Linked DNA regions of Homo sapiens: all the other regions are linked to region 1. Evidence: fine-mapped expression QTL. A gene starts in region 1. Each other region holds a variant in brackets. All regions are shown on one strand. Distances are from middle to middle.

Region 1 (2,749 bases):
CCCACAGGCACCTGGTGGTGGAGGGGGACCTGGGGAGGCTTTGATTTGAAGAAGAGCAAAGTTGGGGAGGGTCCTGGAGAAGAGAGAGGGGGCAGCCCCGGCAGGTCGGTGCTGCAGCTTGAGAAGCCCACTGTGGTGCTGTGTGTGGGTGGGGAGGTTAAGAGCAGAAGGGAAGCAGGGAAACCACAGGCTTCTGGAGCCCAAGGAGTAGATGCCAGACCAGACCCGGGCCTGGCCACTGGCACATATGGGACTTACGGACGACGCTTAGGTTTTCGCCCTGAATAACTGGGTACAGGGCAGGGGAAGGGGTGCTGGATCGCTGGGGGACCCGCAAGCCTCGAACTCAGGGAGAAAGTGACTCGGAGGAAGCCTTCTGGCGGCCTGGAGGAGCTCGGGAGAGCAGCAGACCCAGCCTTAGTCAGGAGGGGCCTTTACTGACTATGGAGGCCCGGGAGGGGCTCTGGGCAGAGAAGGGACCGGCCCCAGGCTGGTGCTTTGGTGCTACTCTGGTGCACAAGAGGGATGCGGTGCGGGGGGAAGGTGGAGCGGCGCAGCAGGTGCGGGGAAGCGGTAGGGGCCCAGGTGTCCGCCGCAGGCGGCCTAGATGGAGTTGGCCCCAGGACGGAGGCCGGAAGGGACCAAAGAACAACAGGAGGGTCCGCGTGCTGGGAGCCAACAAAGAGCCAAGGTGGGCGACCGAGAGACAGGAGAGGGTCGAGGAGAGCAAAGCACCTCGGGGCGCCCGCTCCGCCGTCGGTCTTGGCCCAGCTCTAGCCGCCCCTGGCCACCATCCAGGGGGCCCAGCCCGGCGGTCGGTCTAGGGCCGGGTCCCATGACAGGGCGCGGTACAGGTTCTGGCGGCGGCCCCAGGAGGAGCCGTGGGGGACGCTTCCCGGGGAAAGCGGCGGCCGGGGCGGGAGGGCGAGGGCCGAGGGCGGGGCGGGGCGGGACGGCCTCGCGCCCCCAGGACCCCAGCCTCCCCGCGCCGTGTAGCCGCTCTCCTACCTGCCCGCCCGCCCGTTGCCGGGCTCTGAGCCCGCGCCGCCGCCGCCAGGAAGGAGGGGTCCGCGTCTGCTCCACGCCGGGGGCCAAGCCTAGCTGCTACCGCCGTCGCGCTTCTAGCCCTTGATGGCCGCCGGCGCGCCGGAGTTTCAAACGCCGACGGTTGCCTTCGCGCGGCCAATCAGCGCGCGGCCGGGGGCAGGACCGCAGGAGGGCGGGCGTCCAATGGGAAGCTGTGCCTCGCCGGCTCCGCCCTCCCTCCCCCCCCACCCCCCGCTCGGGCGCCGACGGTTCCGTTTCCGGAGTGGAGGGCACGCCAGGGTGTCTGAAGCTGAGACCCCGGGCTCGCAGTCGCCCCATGAATTTCGAGTTCCGCAACTGACGCTACTGGGCGGGGCTTCATGGCCAGGGCCTCGCTCAGGCCTAAGTTTCCCCACCTGTGCTCAATGCACAGGTGCGGTGCCGCCTCCAGGGCCGGCCGAGAAGAGAGGCCGCACCCGCACGGGGACTGCATCTCCCAGAGCGCCCCGCGAGCGGCCGAGCGGCGGGACTCCATGCCCTAGAGTGCCCCGCGGGCGGCCGGGCGGCGGGACTCCATGTCCTAGAGTGCCCCGCGGGCGGCCGGGCGGCGGGACTCCATGTCCTAGAGTGCCCCGCGGGCGGCCGGGCGGCGGGACTCCATGTCCTAGAGTGCCCCGCGGGCGGCCGGGCGGCGGCCGCCGCAACCGACAGGTCCGGGACTGGGCGCTGCGGCCTCGTCCGCGCGCCGGGGCGGGGGCCTAGCTCGACAGCTTCCCGGCGGCTGCGCGATGGACAGCCCCGAGGTGACCTTCACTCTCGCCTATCTGGTGTTCGCCGTGTGCTTCGTGTTCACGCCCAACGAGTTCCACGCGGCGGGGCTCACGGTGCAGAACCTGCTGTCGGGCTGGCTGGGCAGCGAGGACGCCGCCTTCGTGCCCTTCCACTTGCGCCGCACGGCCGCCACGCTGTTGTGCCACTCGCTGCTGCCGCTCGGTGAGGCTGCTCGGGCCGGCCGGCCGCATCCTCTCCTGCGCAGGGCTTGCTGGGAGGTCAGGAGGAGGCCTCCGCCAGCTCCCCGAGGCCCCGAAAGCGCCTGGGCGCAGCTGGGGAGAGGCGCCGGTCCTCATCCAGAGGGACCGCGGCGTGGGCTGAGCGCGCTTAGGGGCGCCGCCGGCACTGACTTGCAGGTGACGGGAACCCAAGTTCAGAACCTTGGGCAAGGGATGCTCCGGCCCACCAAGTCCTGAACCGTCACGTGCCTGGGGGTTGCAAGGCCAAGCAGCCCTTGCTTGTCGTGGTTGGGGGCAGTGGCCAGGAGAAGGCAACTGTTGATTGAGTCCAACGGAAGGGGTCGGAGGGGCTGTGTGGAGGGTGGCACTGCACTAGGCCTTGGAAGGTGGGTGTGGAGAGAACAGGCGGATTTGGAGGCAGTTCCAGTTTGGGGGCGCCACAGGGGCAGAGGCTGGGGAGGGCCTCTGTGCAGTGCAGGTGGGACGCTCAGAGTTGTCCAGGGGGGTGCTGGGCTGGGCCCCAGGTGCTAGCTGGGGCTCTGGAAGGTCCCTCTCTCAGCTGATTGGATGACGGACAGGTGGGAGGTGGGGTGTGCAGTGGCTGGAGGGGGATTTCAAGGGGGTACCTCTGGAGGACACGGGGGCAGACGCAGCCCTGGGAGGACAGATGGCCAGTGGCTGGCCAGGTTTGCCACTCTGGGGATACAAGAGGG
Region 2 (2,749 bases), 400 kb after region 1:
TATCCTGCCTCATGTCCCGTCAACACAGCCTCGGGGTCTGAACCCAGTTGGATCTCTCTTACTGAGGGTTTCTCCAATGTCCGGGTCTCCGGTTGTGAGAGTCACATGAAAGATGTGAGGCCAGCTGGCAGCAGGCTCGTACGTCAACTGAAACTAGAAACCATCTAAGTGAACTGGTTTTCTGTCTCACACGAAATGCTCATGCTGACTTTTGTTTGTTTTGAGACAGGGTGTTGTCCTGTTGCCCAGGCTGGAGTGCAGTGGTGCAATCTTGGCTCACTGCAGCCTCCACCTCCTGGGCTCAAGTGATCCTCCCACTGCAGCCTCCAGAGTAGCTGGGACCCCAGGCACCCACCAACACTCCCAGCTAATTTGAAAAAAAATTTGTAGAGAAGGGTTCTCACTTTGCTGCCCAGGCTGGTCTCAAACTCCTGGGCTCAACAGATCCGCTCGCCTCAGCCTCCCAGAGTGCTAGGATTACGGGTTGAGAGCCCTGCGTCCAGCCTAAGGCAGCACAGGCAGGCGCACAGCACCAGCCACACTGAGGACTCTGTTCTGCCCCTCCTGGGCAGCCTTCCCTCGGCAGCAGGCTTCCTGTCCTGTTCCTGTGTGGCCTTCCCTGGGCAGCAGCTTCCTGTCCTGTTCCTGGGTGGCCTTCCCTTGGCAGCAGCTTCCTGTCCTGTATTGTCTGGGACCTTGCTCCAATCCAGAGCATGAGGTTATTTTCCTAAGTTTGTCACGTCTCCAATTTTGGTGCACAGGAATTTTGGTGCACAGGTAGGAAACTGGGGTCCCACGTGGGAATTCCATGGCGCCCCCTACAGGAAGTCCAGGTCTGACCAGCGCAGCCGGGGTTTACATTTCCACAACCTGGCAGCTCCCCCTCGGCCACAGCAGCACCTTCCCCAGGGCTTCCTAGTGCCATGGTCACCTGTGGTCAAAAGCGATTCCTCAGCTCAACGCCCTCCGGAGCATCTCAGCAGAAAGAACCCCTCCCCCGCAACCCAGTCCTCATGGGCTCCACACGCCCGCCTTCTTCCACACAGCAGCTCCAGGCCCTCTTTTGGACAGACATGCTCAGGGCACCCCAACACCTTGAGTGTAGCCCGTCTCACCCTGCTGAGGCCTACTCCAACTGGCCTTAGAATCATCAGCACTCCCATATCCACCCTGCTCTA[C/T]GCACTTCTGTGGAACGCGTGGCCTGTGCCCACCACAGGACCCCCTTCTTTCACTTCACGTCTCTCTCCCCCAACACAGCGCACATTCCCTGGGGCCAGGGGCACCCACAGCTCATGCTTCAGCAGCCACCGCCAGGTTGCTTGGTCACACCCCATGGGTCCCAAGGACAGTGTGCTGGGCGTTTAGGAGAGGATGGCTAGGTCATCTATGAACACACGGGGGGCCGCCCCAGGCAGCCAGGACATGTGGGCAGCACGGAGCGAGGGCCTGTGCATTGGGGGAAGCCGGGCACACGGGGCCAGGGAGGCGGGTGGGTGGGAAAGGCATGTGGGACAGGGCACCGGAGCGGACATGTGCTGGCCCACTGTCCGTCACATGAGCCTGGGCAGGTGCAGGTGAGAATGCCCTTCCCTGACACCCAGGTGGAGGAAAAATGGCACCAGATGGGGGCCACAGCAGCCCAGTGGGCAGCACGGCAGAGGCATCACAGACGACCCCGTCCAGCGATGAGAATGTTGGGTGCACACTGGAGTGGCTGCGAGTCATGACCTGGAGACTTCGGAAACTCAACAAGACTGCAGGGCACCCAGGGGCACCAGCCCCGGTCACCGCAGAGGATCAGTGCACTTTGCCATCTGGCAGATCAACTCATGGCACAGCTGTGACACATCACATTCACGCTTGTGAACCGAGACGCCATACCCCAGCGGTGCCGAGAGCAACAGTGCTGTGCAGGTCTGGGCAGATGAGGGCCTCCAGGACACGAGGACTCACTCGCTCACCCTGCCCACTGGGCAGCTGCTCGCCACTCCCCTCCTGGAGGGCAGGACGGACACCACACACACACACAAGCAGGGAGGCTGTGCAGCAGTGGGGAGAAGGCATGGGTGGGAGGGTGCCGCTCCACCCAGGGCAGCATCTGAGAGAAGGTGAACGAGGTGCGGGACAAATGCCGAGGACAAGAGCCAGCAAGAGGGTGGGGCCAGGTGGGTCTGCGGGTGAGTCCGGAGTGTGGGGCCTGCAGATGAGTCCGGAGTGTGGGGCCTGCAGATGAGTCCAGAGTGTGGGGCCTGCGGGTGAGTCTGGAGTGTGGGGCCGGGTGGGCCTGCAGGTGAGTCTGGAGTGTGGGGGCTGGGGTGGGCCTGCGGGTGAGTCTGGAGTGTGGGGGCTGGGGTGAGCCTGCGGGTGAGTCTGGAGTGTGGGGGCTGGGGTGGGCCTGCAGGTGAGTCTGGAGTGTGGGGGCTGGGGTGGGCCTGCGGGTGAGTCTGGAGTGTGGGACCGGGTGGGCCTGCAGGTGAGTGTGGAGTGTGGGGGCCGGGGTGGGCCTGGGGGTGAGTCTGGAGTGTGGGACCGGGTGGGCCTGCAGGTGAGTCTGGAGTGTGGGGGCCGGGGTGGGCCTGGGGGTGAGTCTAGAGTGTGGGGCCGTGGTGGGCCTGCAGGTGAGTCTGGAGTGTGGGGCCGGGTGGGCCTGGGGGTGAGTCTGGAGTGCCGCAAGGCTGGGGAGCTGGGCAGGAGCGTGACAGGAGTGTGGGGGAGGCTGCAAGCCAGCAGGGCGTGCAGATGGCTGCAT
Region 3 (2,749 bases), 32 kb before region 1:
CAGGACTGGTGACAGATCCTCACTGGCTGTCCCCTCCCACCTGCCAGAAGCAGTGCCTGAAGTCCAGAGGACTCCAGGTGCCAGGCTCCCCCTGGGGAGGAGCACGGGGCTGGGCAGTCAGCCGGGGAGGAGCAAGCTGGTGGCTGGGACACACAACTCCCCATGGTGTCGGGCTGGGGGCAGCATGCCTGACCTGGCAATGGCCCCGGTGACGGCTGGGGGTGGCCACGGCTGGGCTCAGGCCAGTCTTATCTGTGGAGGCTCAGAGACCAGTGGCCACTTCCTGGGTCTCTGGCGGTGGCGGCTCCCACTATGACTTCCCCAAGCCAGTCTGGTGCCAACACCCTGGGCTGAGAGTCCCCAGCCCCATTGCATGCTCCACAGCACAGGCCCCAAAGGCCACTGTCCAAGGCCACCCCCGGGTGCCCCTCGCCCCACACCTGGCCCCCTCGCGGGCTGGAGACTCGCTGCTTCTGACTCGGGTCCCGGGACAGGGCACCCACCTGGGTCCCAGTGCCCAGGGGCTGCCGCCCACATGCTGAGCCCCTGACCCTGGAGTTTCAGGTCCCAGATGGAAAGTGGGGAGGGTGCCTGTCTCCGGCTTCTGGAGATCCCTGGGAGGGCACCCTCCTCCACGTGGGCCCGGGAACAGGAAGTGCTTGACGGGGCTCCCAGGTGGGGCCAGCACTGCTCTGTGGGTTTTTCCAGGGAGGGGCTCCTGGGATCTGAAGTCCTCTAAGACCCCCCACCCCCAGCCCCCAGCAGGCAGGGACCCTGCCACGCTTCCCTCTGAGGTCTCCACAGGAGTGGGTGCGGGTCCTGTGGCTTTGCTGGAGGTAGGGCTGGGGCCTCCTGCAGCCCCAGGTCACTGGTCTATGATTGTCACCATCGGGTGGTGGCTGGCCTGGAGAGTGTCTCCTCTCGCGGGTGGAGTCAGGGGCCTGGGTTTCAGGTTGGGGGCTTGGGGACTTCAGTGAGAAGACAGGCCAGGACCTGGCCATGGACAAGGGGACAGCAGGAGAGAAGGGGGTGCTGCCCCCAGCTGGGACCCCAGAGCCCCCCACCTGGTTCCCATCTCCTCTGCCTCCTCCCCTTTGCCAAGAGGCCTCACCACCAGCACCCCAAGTCCCCACAGGCTGGTGCCCCGCGAGGCCCCGGGCACTTCCTCCAGGAAGCCTTCTCCCACCCCTGCAGCTCAGCCACACCCAGCGGCCCCCAGCCAGAGGAGGGGCACCTGGGACCAGACAAGCCTGGGCTCGGGGCAGAGGTGCCTTCCTGCTTTCTGGGCGTGTGGGGAGGGGGTTCCCAGAAATGCCGAGGAGGCCTGGCCGGCAGCCCGAGGGGAGAGCCCCTGGCGCTTCCTGCTTGGTGAG[G/C]AGGCAGGCCTCTGCCGCCTGAGCTCGGAGAAGTGGGAGAAGCGAGTCAACGACAACAACCATCATCGCCCGCCCTCCTCTTCCCAGGCCTATGTGGAGGAGGGCGCCCTCCCCGGGATCTCCAGAGGCCTGACCCCTGGCTGGTGGGCGGGGCAGGCGTCCTGTGCTGCCCCTGAGCCTGTGCCTGCACCGTGCCCATCCGGCTGCCCGGCAGGACCCTGCCCGCTGTCCTGGGCTCCCGAATCAGAGCCCCTCTGGGCTGAGGGGAGGTCACCGTTCCCCAGCTGAGTGGATTACCTGGGGCGGGGCAGAAAGGCCCGTCGCCTGTGGGTTGGGGTCTGCCTTGCCCTACCCTGCCTGAGAGGGTGAAATGAGCTCATGTTCCTGGCAGAGGAGCCAGCACCTGGCGCAGAGGGAAATGAGCTGTGCCGTGGGCACGTTGGGGCGGGGGAGATCCAGCCTGAATCCGCCCAGCTTGGGCTGCCCTCCGGCCAGGTGTGGCCTCCCAGGGGAACACTGTGGACCCTCTCGACAGCTGAGAGGTGGGGCAGGTCGGGCACTGACCAGGATTCCCAGCCTCCTCTAGGAGAGGGCCCAGCCTGGCCATGCTCCCTCCCACGCTGGGGCCCAGCTCAGGAGCCCCCACCTCCAGGAAGTCCCTCAATGCTGAGGGCCCGCCTCCATCCCCACCCATGCTGGGTTGTCCAGAGTGCTGACCACACAGAGGCGAGTGAGCAGCATGGCCTTGTCCCGGGGCCTGCACCTCATCACCAGCATTGGGGGTGACAAAGGCCCCTGAGCTCTGCGGGTGTGGACCTCAGGGAGGCCAAGCTCCTCCAGGCCACAGGTTCGGGCTGGGGAGGGGACACTCTCCTGGGAGCAGCTCCCTGCTTGGCAGGCGCACCTTAACCTGGAGAGCTGGGTGCACAGGCAGGAGCCTCCGGGCCTGGATAGCCAGTGAGCCTGGCAGGGTGGTGGGGACACAGATGGACGTCCCCAGCAGGGATGGTGCGGGTGGAGGGAGGAGCGCCCGGCAGGTCCCTGCTGTCTGGGTCTGCTCTGGTGGTGGCTGCGGGTGAGCGCCTGTGGACTGGTGGCGTGGCACTGGGCTGCTCGGCCGTGTGTTTCTGATTCCTCGAGGCCTCCCCAGCGCGGTGTGTGTGCAAGGTACCCCCACCCTGGGCCCACTCAGTGTCCCGGGCTGCCTGGCCTGGTGCAGGACCACCCACCAGGCGGCCCCTGTCCATCTGGGGTGGGGGTTGTGGGTGAACCCTGGGGGTAAAGAGGCCACCTCCCTGGCCCAGAAGAGCCCCAGGGTTGCTGGGCCCGGGACAGAGAGGGCATGGGGCCGCCTGCGGTCCTAGAGGGGGCACAGA

What was found. PIP is the estimated chance that this variant, and not a neighbour inherited with it, causes the effect.
Region 2: its variant is fine-mapped to the expression of TACC3 in whole blood (TOPMed, PIP above 0.99).
Region 3: its variant is fine-mapped to the expression of TACC3 in whole blood (INTERVAL, PIP 0.96).

The regions. Positions count from the first base shown.
Region 1 is chr4:1,719,903-1,722,651 of GRCh38, reverse strand. TACC3 (transforming acidic coiled-coil containing protein 3) reads right to left here and starts at 1,131. Exons shown (of 16, transcript NM_006342.3): 1 at 1,009-1,131. TMEM129 (transmembrane protein 129, E3 ubiquitin ligase) reads left to right here and starts at 1,329. Exons shown (of 4, transcript NM_001127266.2): 1 at 1,329-2,019. The coding sequence starts at 1,815. RefSeq lists enhancers at 301-1,296, 2,379-2,478 and silencers at 919-1,728, 1,739-1,788.
Region 2 is chr4:1,316,826-1,319,574 of GRCh38, reverse strand. All of the region lies in intron 3 of MAEA (macrophage erythroblast attacher, E3 ubiquitin ligase), which reads right to left. Among named protein-coding and RNA genes, the nearest start is that of MAEA, 28 kb to the right of the region's middle. RefSeq lists an enhancer at 1,631-2,131. The variant C/T (reference allele first, on the strand shown) is at 1,179.
Region 3 is chr4:1,751,413-1,754,161 of GRCh38, reverse strand. No RefSeq gene overlaps it. Among named protein-coding and RNA genes, the nearest start is that of TACC3, 31 kb to the right of the region's middle. RefSeq lists an enhancer at 239-846. The variant G/C (reference allele first, on the strand shown) is at 1,374.